Homo sapiens: one gene and its partners. The protein of the gene in region 1 purifies or fractionates together with the protein of each later gene. This does not show direct contact. Each region holds a gene or a part of one and is shown on either strand. Other genes may lie near its edges. The genes, in order: RABL2A, FHIT, AKAP11 and POLA1.

Region 1 (4,062 bases):
CCTTGGGCACATGTCGTCAAGACCTCCTGAGGCTGTGTCACGGGTGCACGTCTTTCTAAATTACCTGAAACCATCTCAGATAGGGTTCACACATCCCTTTCCCGAACCCTCCCAGGAGCCCCTCGTGGGCGCCCAGGTCCTGCCTGCTGTTGTGGCCCAGGCTCACCTGGAGCAACTCGACTCTTCGTTACAGCCTCGTGAACCTTTCAGTTCCTAAAGCTGTCTAGCCTGTGAAAGGAAAATGAATCTGGGGGCCCCAAAATCACTAAGCTAAAGGGAAAAAAGCTGGGAACTGCTTAGGGCAAACCTGCCTCCCCATCTATTCAAAGTCACCCCTCTGCTCACTGAGATAGGTTAATATGTGATAGCCTCCTTTGCGGAGGCTATTCAGAAACCCGAAAGAATACAACAGTTTGTCTCTCACCTACCTGTGACCTGGAAGCCCCCTCCCTGCTTCGAGTTGTCCCGCCTTTCCCGAGGGAACCAACGTTCATCTTACATATATTGATGTCTCCTGTCTCCCTAAAATGTATAAAAGCAAGCTGTGTCCCGACCACCTTTGGCACATGTCAAGACCTCCTGAGGCTGTGTCACGGGCGTGCGTCCTCAACCTTGGCAAAATAAACTTTCTAAATTGACTGAGACCGTCTCACATATTCGAGGTTCACAAGCCCATGCATGGGGACGTCCCCTGGGGTAGCGCCCCTCCTCCACTGAGCTCACTCGCTTCCTCCTTGTGTGTTTTCTTCAGAAGAAATTTCACAGCTACTTGGTCCACACCTGTCTGCCCCACAGGAACCTCTCTTCTCCACAGGCACATGGGCGGCGTACCTGCTGGGCTGTGTGGAGAGGACCGGGTTCCTCTCCTGATTCCTGCTCAGTTAATAACGAATGTCGACAAGTCGAGAAAATTGCTCAAATTTACCCCATCAAAGAATTAAAAACTGGTGAAAGCTTGACCTGCGCCCCCCACCCCTGACGTGCTCACCGCTCCACTCCCTCTAGGCGGGCGGCACCCGCTGAAGCCTCAGTACCACACCCACAGCCAGGAGCCCCAGTCCCGCACTCGGCCGCATGCGCACTCCCTGCGGCCCTCCCGCCAGGCGCCGCGCTGGGCAGCCAGCGCCCCGGCGGGGTCCTTCAGGCCTTCGGCCGGGCAGCCTCCCTCGGGGTCCTTGCGCGGTTGCGTAGCAGCTGCGAGGACGCGGGGCGAGCCGGAAGTGGAGTGCGCTGCGGTGCGAGCTGGGCCGGCGGGGTGGTTCGAGAGCGCGCAGAGTCCAGACTGGCGGCAGGGCCCGAGGGGCCGACCCGCAGCGTCCCTGGTCTCTCCAGCCCTCACTCGGAACCGCACGTGAGGGCAAATCCGCCCCGGTGGCTGGCTTAGCACGCGGGGACAGCCCCTCCGAGGCCTCCCTAGCGGTGTGGGCGAGAGGGCGTCCGGGTCGGGGGAAGCACGGAAAGGTGGCTTCGCGAGGCTGTTGTGGGGGGCGGGACGGGCAGCCTGGCGATGCCTGGACATGGTTGGTGGCCAAAAACATTTATCGAAAGATAGCATACCCACTTAGATGGCGAGGACATCGACAAGCAAGTCTTCGCCCGTAAGCGGTGGCTCACGCCTATAGTCCAGGGATGCCGAGGAGGGAGGATCGCTTGAGTCCAGGAGTTGGAGGCTGCAGTGAGCCGTGATCGCGCCACTGCACTCCAGCCTGGGCGACAGAGTGAGACCCTATCTCTAAACAAAAGAAAGAACGTCTTCAAGCATGGAGCCATGAAGCTGGATTTGGCTTTCTGTCGCTCTCTCTACAGGGTACAGGTGAAAGGGGGCAGACCCCTCATCATGCTTTCCAGGCATCTGCCACTTCCCAGGAATTGTCTCCCTGGATAAACAAGGCGAAGTCCCTGGCTGTGCAGAAGCAGTAGCTGTGTGGTGGCACAGTCAGGAAAACTCGGGGGCCCTGTTGGTATTTTCTACCCCTGACCCGTGTGCATACTTCTGTCGTAGCTCTCACCACAGTAGACTCTGCTATCATTGTGTCTTCCATCCTCTGAACCCTGTGCAAGGTCTGCTCATGGTGAATGCCCAGTAAGGCTCACCTATTGCTGCTATCTCATCATCATATCATTTCTATGTGCCCCCCTAGCTAAGAGTCTGGACTGTGGTTACATTCTCAGGAATGTCTGCAAAGTCATATTTAGGTGTGAGGAGAGTAAAACAGAGCTAGACATAATGTTGCACACAGCCTTTGGCACTGGATGCCTGGTGAATGTCTTGTGCAAATGGGTAACGTGAGGAGCAGCATTTGGGGTGCGCAGGACTTAACTATTTGTGTATAACATATTACTGATGCCTGTGTGTCATCCTCTGCTACTCCAAGTCTAGTAGCCAATTGCATACCATATCTCAGTCTGGCACTGAGGGAAGCAGTCTGGATGGAGGTACAGCTGGAGATTTGGTTGAGGGGACTTATCTCTGACAACAGCCTCTTGTTGATCTTCCCAGACAGTGACAATACCCTCCCCTCCCTTGGGCTGGACCCCTCTCTACAGCTAGGAGCCAATGGCAGAAGACAAAACCAAACCGAGTGAGTTGGACCAAGGGAAGTATGATGCTGATGACAACGTGAAGATCATCTGCCTGGGAGACAGCGCAGTGGGCAAATCCAAGTATGTTGGGAGATTAGGGAATAAATACCAGCCCCAGAGAGGGTCCAGGTCATTTAAAAAGTCCTCCAGAGGCAGAGGAGCATGGCTTCTTGGGGCTGGTGAAGGAGCAGTCTTGGCTGGAGCCCAGATGTTCATGGGGGAACGAGGGGAATCACATGACCCGTTGTGTGTGTCGGGTGGAGGGGGCAGGTCATAAGGACTGAGGAATTTGAATGTTTCCTCTGAGCCCTGAGAGAACGTGTGGAGCAACTGAGGACATTGTATGTGGTTTGTGGGCTGAGGGATGGCAAGGGCGGGGAGTGGGAATGGAAAGACAAAAGTGACTATGCCACCGTGACAGATTGGGTAAAGGTGGTAAAGATGCTTTCTTGGAGGGACTCTCTGAAATAGAGAAAACTGGGTAGAACTGACGATTGACTATAATCATTGTGAAGACTGGCTTCTTCTTGTAATGAATTTCGGTGCCTACATGCCACCTGGAGAGGTGAAGGGAGGCTCTGCCGTGCTGCCAGCTTGTCTCCATGAGACGTCCTAGTTCTCACGCCTAGGACTGCTGAGGGCACATGTCCATTTCCGCCTTCATAGCATGACGGTACACTTGCCCCTGCCCAGAGAAGTGGTCACGTTTATCTCCCAAGTACTCCAGGCCCACCTTGGTTTCTACCTTCATTTTTATAGTCAAGTCCTTTGACTCAGGTAGCTGTGAATAATTCTCTGGGGGCTTTGCTGGTTTTTAGGCCATCTCCATGAATTTGAATTCTCTGTCTCTCTCTCTCTCTCTCTTCCCCACCACACAATCACACACTGCAGCTCTGGTTTAGAATTTTTTTTTTTTTTTTGAGACGGAGTCTCGCTCTGTCCCCCAGGCTGGAGTGCAGTGACGTGATCTCGGCTCACTGCAAGCTCCGCCTCCCGGGTTCACACCATTCTCCTGCCACAGCCTTGCGAGTAGCTAGGACTACAGGCGCCCGCCACCACACCCAGCTAATTTTATTTTTGTATTTTTAGTAGAGACGGGGCTTCACCTTGTTAGCCAGGATGGTCTTGATCTCCTGACCTCGTGATCCGCCCACCTCAGCCTCCGAAAGTGCTGGGATTATAGGCATGAGCCACCGCGCCCGGCCTCTGGTTTAGTATTTTATAGTTACTTTGACCATCCTCAACAGCACGCCTGTACAGTAAAAGTGAGGGTAGGTGTTGTAGTTTGGGAAGGTTACCCAATAAATAATACCCCCTTTATCCCCACTCAAGTTTAAAACAACAAAGAATAGAAATGGCAGGCAGGTGTAGAGCAAATTGCCACTTTAATAACAAACAGAGCTTTCGGAGAATGTATCTTGGTATACCCAGCTCCCAAGTTCAATGCTAGTCTCTTTATATGCCTCATTTCAAACAGTA
Region 2 (3,568 bases), on another chromosome or scaffold:
GCCAGCCCAATCCACTGGTTAAATCACTCCCCAATTTTTAAAGTCCAGTTTAAATCTCATCTGCTCTAAGAAGTCGCCTTTGGTTTTCATCTACTGTGAGAAATCTCCTTGTCAGCTATACAACCTAAATTATAACTATTGACCTTCGCTTCCTTTAAAAAATATTATTGCTAAAAAAACTCTATACTCTAGATTATAGGGAGAAGTGGTAACCAGTTCCACAAGTTTTCACACATGATATGTACTGGATAAAACATTTATTCAATTCAATATAGTAACTTTAATTCTTTAAAGGTTATCCTACATGTTGGCTAAGAAATCTTGACAGAGGAGATAATCCCAAGCAAACAGGATCCAGAAGTAAATGTGTCTTCATAGCCTATGTATAATATGGAATTTACCCATTAACAAGGCCTAAGAGGCTCCAAATTAAATTATATTGCATCTGTGATATTATTTTAAAACAATTGGCATATAAAAAGTGGCATTAGAATTACAAAAGCTATCTGCTGTTCTTCTAATTAATTTGCTTTCCCTGAGTTGTTTTTCTAGGAGCAACATGCAAACAAGCAAAATTGACAAACAATAAGTTTTTTTATGGTGTTGAAAAAAAACATTTTTGGATGTCATTGATATTACTAAATTTACATTAGATACATAGGTTGTCTGATTTATTCCACCAGTTTTCACAGTAAGCCATTGTTGAAGTGAAATGTCTTCCTCCCCCACCGAGTTGCTGTGTGTGAACATAGCCTAACATAGCACTTATGGACTTCGTTGGAAGCTTGCATGGTTGTCACCCTTGCTGTGGTTTGGTGAAGTCAGGCCTAAGTGAGGGTGTAATTCAAATCAGGGAGGAGGAATATGGGGAAGGGTCCCTTTTAACACAGAAAAAGCAGCTTCGTGGGAGTGGAGGCTGGCAATCTGCTCAAAGGAAATGAAAGGAAATTCTTCATTTCTAAATGGTTCATTGACCCATGATAATAAAGCGGGCCTGCCAAAGATGGATAATTATCTTTTTAAGTATCAGATGCCCTGTGGGTGAACGCCTCCCTTCTCCTCTCTTGAAAAATGAACTCTGATTTTAAAAATGCTTCTTTTCCTAGTTTACCATTGACATGAATTTCCTGATTATGAGCAAAATTAATCAGTTTCTTCTTTCTCTTCCCCTCTCTCTTATGGAAATCAGGCCTGACCAGCTGAGCTCAGTTGTGTTTCCCCTTGGGCTCTGAGTTCTACCAATAGCGGAATGGGGTTGATATTCTAGTGAGACTAGCAATTGCAGAATTATGGTTTTATTATGCCCCTCAGCTGCTTAGCTCCAGGCAGGAGCATGCTGTCTTAAAACAACAAGAAAAAAGAAACAGAAAAACGTACAAGAGTTTGTTTCTCTTGTTAGTATCTAAAAACTAAACAAATATTTATATATATAGTGTGTGTATATACACATGTGTGCATACATGTGTGTATAGTGACTGAAATGTTATTGATGGTGTAACAGTGAATATTAATTTCCTATCAAGAAGTAATCAAATTTCTATCCTTTTTTCTCAGATCTTATATGTTGCTGAGACCAATAGTGTAAATACGTTGCCTTGTCTAACTTGTAGAATGCATTAAGAATGCTTTATTTGAATAAACAGACAACCTTTCGTTCATGATTTACCTTCAAATGTCTTCTTTTGGATTCTAAAAAAAAAATTAGTCTGAGGAACTCTTGTCATAAATTGCTTAACCACATGGCACCTCTCTTAGTTATGGATAAAGTTCACTGTACATTTTCAGAATGTCTATACTCTTTTAAAAATAAAATAAACATCTACTTTTGTATGTTCATTGCATAATTTTCTTATTTCTCTAAAGAGATAATTTAAATTAAAAATTTATCCCCATGTTCTACCTAGAGAAACCAAGTAGATATTCCAGTTGCTTTTTCAACCTAGTGCCTTTGGCTGCTGAAGCGGACACAGCTTTAGAATAGGGGTCAAGAGAGAATGATCTAGAATAGATCTTGCCTCCTCGCATAATTATCTCACCATACACTTGAGTCTGTCTGTACACGAATGTCCCTTTCTTTTGCAAGAAATTCTTCTGCATACCACAGCTTCTCCTTCAAAGTGTAATTATCCATGTATGGGAGCTCTCTTTCAACTCTCTGGAGTTCAGTGGATGGTAAATATCTGTTTCTTCATTCCTTAGTCTTTGAGAGTTCAGGCCCTGGTCCGAGAGGATTCAATCCTGTGGGTATGAACTGCTTGGTAAGAACACTACCCAAAGCCAGCAGCATGGGCCTTAACAGACCTTGCTACAGATGTCCTTGTGTGCCCGCTGCGGCCAGTGGAGCGCTTCCATGACCTGCGTCCTGATGAAGTGGCCGATTTGTTTCAGACGACCCAGAGAGTCGGGACAGTGGTGGAAAAACATTTCCATGGGACCTCTCTCACCTTTTCCATGCAGGTGAGTGTACAGATTTCTCAGAAATGATTTTTCTTCCCTTTCATATCCCGGCATTGGGCTTGCTCCTCCTGATATCTTACCAGGAGGGCAGATGTGATTGTTTGTATTTTAGGTAGCAGCCAAAAAAAGAGATTTCTAATGCAGGGCAACCCTACTGTCCATTGGCCCCAAGATGGACCGTGGGATAGTGTCTAAGGTGATGTCTGAGGCTTGTTTACCAAGCAGGTGGGAGTAATGGATAAGTGATTTAATGGACATTCAGACATTCCAAATTGCTTACTGGAACTGGGACTGGAAAAATCATTTTCATTCCATGGTAACTAATTTTTGAGCACTGCATAGACTAAGCCCTGCTCTAATTCCAGGGTGGCAGTGATATGCAGCTTAGGTTGGGCCTTACCTTTTGTCTGTCTTTAATTCAAGATGCAGAGATTGATCACAGATTAGTTAGAAGCTAGATTCACTGGTTGGGTGTGGCCCACTGACCAGTGAAGAAATCAGATCCCCAGTCACTGAAGATTTTTAGGCAGAGGTTGAGCCAACAGTTGTCAGGTTGGGAGAAGGATGTCCATGGTGAGTCATCAGTAGGGAATTGAGTAAATCCGTAGTAACATACCATGAGCTCCTTCAGGCCCTCTATGGAAAGGGCTGGGGTATCAATGTATAAAGTCCTTCATGGCTCTGAAATTGGATGACTCTGTAATTGCCCTTTAGAAGGACACACTTTCAAAATGTGAGGACTCTGTACTCAGCCTGTTAGTTAAACTGAATGTTTGCCATTCTTCCTCCCCTCCTTAGCTCTTTACCATAGAGCTTCAAAGAGACCAGATAAAGAAAGCCAGTGTTTTCAGGTTATGAAGGCTCTGACTAAAAGTGCTCATCTTCTTCTCAAACAGATTTTTTTCTTTCTTTTTTTGCTGCCATGTCTGTGTTAAGAGTAGCTAAACTTCCCCCAAATGCTTTGTGTGTATGTGTTGTATGTCAAACCATTTGAGTCCCCTTCAGGCAGGTAGTTCAGTTCAGAGTGGGTTTATCAAGCTTATGTTGCAAACCGTGTTTCTGGAGAGACTAAATGAAGGCAGTGAATGAAAACCTCTGTTAATGTTTAGTG
Region 3 (3,568 bases), on another chromosome or scaffold:
ATAACTGTTTAAAAATAGTAACAATTAATTAGAGGGTTTAAGACAGACATATTGATAAAATGTATGACAAAATAGGATAAAAAATGTGGCAGGGGAGATGGAGACAAAAAAAGACTGTCATAGATTTCTACATTAAACATGAAGTGATGTTATTTGAAGAAAACCTGTAATAAGTTATCTTGTAAACCCTAACACAAACACTAGAAAAATAAAACAGAATAATACCTAATAGGTGAACAGCAGAATAAAAGTGATGTTATCCCCCTTTTTGCAAATAAGGAAGCTAAGTTCCTTTCTTGGGTACAGACCTGTTATTTGACTTACAAAATCTAAAACTACTACAGCTATCAGATACTATTTTGTTTTTCAAAACAACAGTCAATCGTATAAAATGATTTTAGTATGTCTTAATATCTATTAAGATATTTGCTTCTTTATAGTTTCTGCCTTTTTCCTTTTTAATCCTCAACCTCATTCCTGCATTCACAATATATATGTTCTTACCGCTACAGAGTTTCTCAATCTCAGCATTACTAACATTTTGGGTCAGATAAGTCTTTGTTGTAGGAGGCTGTGTATGCATGGTAGGACACTTAGCAGCTTCCTTGGCCTCTACCCACTAGATGCCAGTAGCACTCAGTTGCAGTAACCAAAACTGTCTCCAAATATTACCAAACATTTCCTTGGGGAGCAAAATCACCACTTACCCTATTTTAGCACTTTAGACTACAGTGCCTTATGTAACAGTTAAATGTCTACATGTCTATGCCCTGCACTGGACTGTAAGTACTACCAACGTTCAACACATACATTCACCAAGCGTCTAAGTAACAGTGATTGGGATACAACAGTGAATTTCATTCCATCGCCATGCCTTACTCATCTCTGCATTCCCCAAAGGCCTTACTCATAATAAGCAACTATAGATTTACTGAAGTGAACGAGCTGTACGGTGAAGAGAAATTTCATCAATGACGTGAATGCAGACAGGCATTTGGTGGCAAAAGCAACATCACCAAATAGAAAATAGGGCCACTTACCTAATGACTTTTTACAAAATTAATCCAAGAATATTTGTTCTGTCACTTTTGTTTTCCCAAACAGTCACAGAGAAAAATTATTGATTTTTCAACTGCATTCCAGATTGAGATCTACTTATAAGGTATGTTTGAGCCCAACTAGCCACTGGTATTGAAAGGAATAACATGGGTCTAGTTGACAAAGTACTAAGTGTGAATGGCTACTGACTTCAAAACTACTTATTCAGCAACAATAAACACAACTTTTAAACATGCAACGGTCCATTGTTAGAAGTTAATTAGAATAATCAGATGAAGGCAGGAGGATAAAACAGTTAACATTTTCATAATAAAAAACTCATTAGACCTACATTTGAATACAGTTTTAAGAAATCACTGTAAAGGATATATGCCCTCAAATGATTATCTTAGTTTCACTATTGAGTGTGCATCTGTAATATATTTGACTTTCAAAAATATTTTCAACAACTGATTTATAATAAAACTTTGTATATGTGTATGGCAATATTATAAGGATGATATGCTATAATTAAAATGCTATGTAATTGAATACCTACAAAAAAATGCAACAACAAAAAACTAAAATCTTGAGATTGTGCTTTCAACATGAATATGCTCCCTAGAAAATGGAGTAACATTCTTAATCTTGTACGTAGCCCTATCCACAAGACTATTTCTAACAGAAAATATGTTCAGAATTTTAACCCAGGAACACATTTCTTTTTATCAGTGACATCTATGACGCCATGACTCTAAGAGTATATTGCTGAAAAGGCATTTAAGTAGCTCTTACAGATATAAGGATCTATCCTAAGCTGCCAGTAGCCGAAATAAGTCAACAGATCTACTTTGCAGATGGGCCAGTCATAGGAAGCACCCAAAAGCCCACACAGAACCTATTAACTAACAGGGTATATTACAGCATAAAAAAAGAAGAATGTGAAAAATAACTTTAAGGTTTTAAGCCTGGGATGCTGAAAGAAAATTTTTTTCTTTGCAAATCAGAAGGTAAATCAGAAGGCTTTGCAAATTAGAAGGTAACTGGAAGACAGTATTTTATATCAACATAGGAATATCCAAGAGGCTAGGTACAGTGGGCGCATACCTGTAATCCCAGCACATTGGGAGGCCAAGGCAGGTGGACGGCTTGAGCCCAGGAGTTTGAGACCAGCCTGGCCAACACGGTGAAACCCCACCTCTAAAAAAATATAAAAATTAGCTAGGCGTGGTAGCACACACCTGTGGTTCCAGCTACTCGGGAAGCTGAGAAGGGAGAATCGCTTGAGCCCTGGGAGGAGGAGGTTGCAGTGAGCCAAGATTGCGCCACTGCACCCTAGCCTGGGTGACAGAGCAAGACCATGTCTCAAAACATATAAATTATATAAATAATAATACCCAAAAAAAGAACTAAAAATTAAGAGATTTACTTGGGGTCAGAGATGGAGATGTTACTCTAAGAATAATCCACATATAGAGAACCTGAAAGCTGGTCTCAGCGACTGGGAAAGAACAGAAATTCAAGAGAGCATCTATGAAGACAACCATGATAAAGGGTTCCAGGACCGGCATAAAAGGAACCACAAATAAATGGCAGTCAGAAAGGTAGGTGAGGTAGAGATTTAGAAGAATTTAGTGTCACTGAAGTCAAGAAATGGTTTTAAGCATGAGTGGTCAGCACTGGACTTCTAGACTTCTTGAGGGCAGAAATTCCTTCCTCTCTGAACACGACCAGAAGCCTGTATCACAGTACCTGCCACACGGTATGCTCTCAACAAATACTAATACCGTACCCTTGCATTGTGCCTGCCATATGCCAGACACTGTTTAATTGCTTTACATACATGAATTCATAATTCTCACCACAGAAGGTGCTATTATGCCCATTCTACGCATAGGAAAACTGAGTCATCAAGCATTTCAGTAATTTGCCTGAACTCCCACACCCAGGAGAATCTGTCCTGTAAAGAGACTACTGGTTAGATCTGGTTAGAACATTACCAAGCTGAGAGCAAGTTCAATGCAATGCCAGAGGAAGAACTCAAATTGCAGGATGTTAAAGCACACCTGAGGTATCCATCACTTCCTCCCTGTCCACTCTCCTTTTGTTAAATATGTTGGCATGGCCAGTTTAAAAGGAGCAGCCCTGCAAACTGTGAGACAAATCTAAGTCTCTTCCTCATCCATTTTTCCCATTCCTATCTTTCCTCACTCTCCAGCCAACTGTGCTAGAAGCAGAAACCTGACCAATTGGATTCTCTCTCTAGAAACATAACTGAGACTTGGAGATGTTTGCTGAGAACCATGTTGCATAGTCAGTGAGTCTGATGTTGGCATCATGGCAAACCAAAGTCTCATGCAAATCAAAGTTTTGGGGAAGTGGAAACCAAGAGCTTTAAAGAGAAGGCCAATCTGAAAGAAACTGGAACAGACCTGCGTGAGTAGCAGAGACATAAGACCATGTGCTTCCAGAGAAAAACTGGAAGAGTAACTGCCTGAAGACTTTCTGGTTCCCAAAACGCTGAATTGGA
Region 4 (3,352 bases), on another chromosome or scaffold:
TCACAAAAAATTATTTTATTCCATCTCTCAGTGATGATGACATGATTGCTTTTTGGTAATCATTTACCATTCTGATTTTATTTTTTGAAGTAAATTGTCTGAAGTAATAGGTTCTTGGAATTACAGCGTGCCTTGCTTTTTTCTTAGAACTTTATTTAAGCTTGTCTTCCAGCATTTAACCCGAGTCCCCTCTTTCGTTTGATCTTCTAACTTTATTTATACAACAGTGCTTAATGATCCTGCACAATGTGTTTCTTTTTTTTTTTTCCTTCTCTACAACCTCCCCCCCCACACCCACCCAAAAAAAAATTCTGTCCAGTATGGTTGACAGTACTTTTTATAACCTCAGCAAGGGGGCTGCATGGGCAATTTTCTTCCGACATGACAAATGCAAACACCCAAAACCCAACCCTGAGAGAATCACTTCATCCAGTTGAAAGGAAATTTTTTATCTCTTTCAAGGTGACTCTTTTGCCACTGAAACATGGTAAGGGGCACGACTCTTACCTTCTATTCTTGTCTATAGAAGTGGCATTCTTTACATTGCTTTATTCTGTCTCCTCCCTTCTCGCATCGGCCTCTGCTCTTCCCCAAACTTCCACTGAACAACCCTTCCTGGTAGTTGGGCCCCATGGCACCTCCATTTGCTTTGAGTGTGAAGGGTCACTGTTCACCACCACCAGGCTGCAGCAAGCCTGTGTTTATTGAACATGAACCAGACCAATGGTGGAGAGAATTATAATCACACTTCTAAATACTTGTCAGATCAGCCTACAGCCTAGTAGAGCACTTGAGCTAAACCATGGATATTTTATTCTTCTTGAAGGCTGTATTTTGGTATCAACATAAAAGAAGAAAAAAGAAAGAAAACTGAAGATAATTATTTCTAAGTAGGAATGGAACTGGATAGTGGACTAACAGACTCTTCAAGCCTTCAGAAATATTTTAGCATCTAAGATGTGATTTAATGGGTGAGAATGGTCCTCTAGGCATTGGCTAATTGATAGACACATTGATCACTGTGTGTGCCTGGCACTGTGCCTTGTGAATTTTTTTTTTCTAAATAAGAATTGACTCAAAGATTATTTCTTTTCATTTCTTACTTTGAGAAATGTTTATGTACTTGCCATTTGATTTGGGGCCCTAAATGTCTTTGAGTTTAAAATATGGATGTCACTTGAAATCTTTCAGGTACTGTGCATAGCCGGAAGCTCAGTTATATGGATCGATATTCAGGAAAAAGGCAGGCCAGAGGCTCCAGCAGCTCTCTGTAGGTCGGATGGCTCTACGTGTAGAGAGCGTAGAGGGGTGCAGTTTTCTTTCAAATTTTTCTAAAGCTTCCTGCATTCCACCCCTTACTGCAAAGCTCACGTTGCATTGAGGGAGGGAGGCTATGGATTGGAAAAGGTGGGAGAACTGAGAACTGTATGGTGGGAAGCCATGCAATTAAAAAACTGACTGAAATTATTACCTGATTTCATAATTGACAGAATATTTAATTCAGATATAGTAAATTGACACACCTCTACACAGAGACAATTATGACTGACTGTATAACACCTGACAGAATCAATTATAACTGACTGTTGTTTGATACCTTTGTACAGAAATAAATGAAACAGACATTCAGAACAGAGACGGCTGCTGCCTGTGTGCCTAAGCCTGCCTTAATTAAAAGAAAATAACCAGTAGGCGATGTTAAAATGTCTTTGCCTCGTGGTTTCTAGTTCAGTGTGTTTCTTTAAGTCCAAAAAGGGTTTTATAAAGAGTAAAGTTGAAAAGAGATTTTTGGTTTACTGACATGGAACTAAAATATGTGAAGTAGAGTTAGTTTCCTTAGATGGGAGAATACTCCATTATTTTAATAGAGCTAGCATTTTATTTGATCAGTTGACTTTTATATAAAATATTTAAGAAAGGTCAACCTACAGATGATGGTCTAGTTCATCCCATATAGAAAAGAATGTAACTTTCATTATTTTGAGGTTTTAGATTCTAATCAATAGAAATCAACTTTTAAATGAGCAGTTCATTTTGTAGTCTGATAAAATATTTTGTGAATAATTAGTATCTAGGCTACCCTTTTTTTCCATCGTTTTCATAGGGGTTAGGGACAGAATATTTTTGGTAATTAACATATAACCACAGGGAATCAGAGCATGTAGAAAGGATCAGAGTAAATAAGCTTTATATACACGTTCCTCGAATGTTATTCTCAAGAAAAGTTTAAAAAGGAGATTAGCTTTGCTGATGTATTAAGATGAGTGATTTCTGGGTGATACTTCAAGCCATTAGAGTATATTTCAGTGACGCACTTGTGTGTAGGAAGAGCATTTCCTCCCCGATCTCGACAAAGGTTGGCTTTGTGGTGCTGGTGGCGGAGACAGCAGTTACCAGGGCCAGTGGCATCTCTGTGGACAGGGATGGGATGGCTGCGGATCTTCTCTGGCTCTTGCCTAATGGCATGTTGGAATCTTTTAACAGTTGTTATTGGGCACCTGACCTGCAGCACCTGAGGTGATGGCGTCGTTACTGATAGGCTGACTCTCAAAATCAAAGCAGGAAAAGGAATCAGGGTTTTACTGGCCACATTAACTGGCCTCCACCAGTTAACACCTGTATTTTCCCTTGAGTTCTAAAGTGGTGGATATAGTATTGACAGAAACAGGGTAACAGTTTAATGTGAGGCCTAACGTGGGTGGCCCAGGTGCCTAAAGGGGGAAGAGAAAAACCAGGAAGGGGTGACTCCTTCCCCCCACCAGCCCCTGTCCCTGACGCAGCCTGTGACAGCTAGTCCAGTTCTGTTTCCTAGAAGACCTTCCATATGTTATTGATTAAATTCTCTTTGGGGAAGCAAGTGGGAGCTTTTATCTGCATCTCTAACTGGCGTGGAATGGTGCCTTGGCCGTATTGACTGGCTATGGGATATGCTGGCGGTCACAGTTGTCTTTTAGGAGGAAGAGCACCGAGTGACGCTGGTTGTCATTCTAACTCTGCTGTGTGGCAGCGTAAATAGTCCCCTTTCTAACCAACCTGGTGGGAAAAGTCAATATCCCATCAGCAGAGGAGGTAAACACATCAGGAGCTATGTCCTCTCTTTTCCTCCCCTGCTCCGTATTACCGCAGCTCTTTAAATGTGCTCTCCCCAGTCATCAGATGCATTTGTGTCATTCACATGCACGGGGTTGCTGGCCTGTGGCTCTGGCCTGCCGGGAGGCAGCCGACACTGGTTGGGGCCATTGTTGTTTATTCCCAGACTCAGATCATTAGAACTTTCAAATTGTCTTTCTGTTGCAGCCCCCCTCTCTTTTTCCACCCCTTTTGGGCATTTTAATTCTCTATAAAACCTGTG

The links.
Region 2: the proteins of RABL2A (region 1) and FHIT purify together in Homo sapiens (affinity purification with mass spectrometry, with the first as the bait; one large-scale study listed by BioGRID). This does not show direct contact.
Region 3: the proteins of RABL2A (region 1) and AKAP11 purify together in Homo sapiens (affinity purification with mass spectrometry, with the first as the bait; one large-scale study listed by BioGRID). This does not show direct contact.
Region 4: the proteins of RABL2A (region 1) and POLA1 purify together in Homo sapiens (affinity purification with mass spectrometry, with the first as the bait; one large-scale study listed by BioGRID). This does not show direct contact.

Annotation. Positions count from the first base shown.
Region 1 is NC_000002.12:113,626,050-113,630,111, forward strand, and holds the start of RABL2A (rab-like protein 2A), read left to right. Parts: upstream 1-1,216; 5' UTR 1,217-1,351; exon of another isoform or gene 1,352-1,419; intron 1,420-1,565; exon of another isoform or gene 1,566-2,504; 5' UTR 2,505-2,557; coding exon 2,558-2,664; intron 2,665-4,062. UniProt on the Homo sapiens protein: Plays an essential role in male fertility, sperm intra-flagellar transport, and tail assembly.
Region 2 is NC_000003.12:60,012,896-60,016,463, reverse strand, and holds part of FHIT (bis(5'-adenosyl)-triphosphatase), read left to right. Parts: intron 1-2,199; exon of another isoform or gene 2,200-2,246; coding exon of another isoform or gene 2,247-2,258; intron 2,259-2,311; coding exon 2,312-2,457; intron 2,458-3,568. UniProt on the Homo sapiens protein: Possesses dinucleoside triphosphate hydrolase activity. Cleaves P(1)-P(3)-bis(5'-adenosyl) triphosphate (Ap3A) to yield AMP and ADP. Can also hydrolyze P(1)-P(4)-bis(5'-adenosyl) tetraphosphate (Ap4A), but has extremely low activity with ATP.
Region 3 is NC_000013.11:42,275,101-42,278,668, reverse strand, and holds part of AKAP11 (A-kinase anchor protein 11), read right to left. Parts: intron 1-3,568. UniProt on the Homo sapiens protein: Binds to type II regulatory subunits of protein kinase A and anchors/targets them.
Region 4 is NC_000023.11:24,990,915-24,994,266, forward strand, and holds part of POLA1 (DNA polymerase alpha catalytic subunit), read left to right. Parts: intron 1-3,352. UniProt on the Homo sapiens protein: Catalytic subunit of the DNA polymerase alpha complex (also known as the alpha DNA polymerase-primase complex) which plays an essential role in the initiation of DNA synthesis.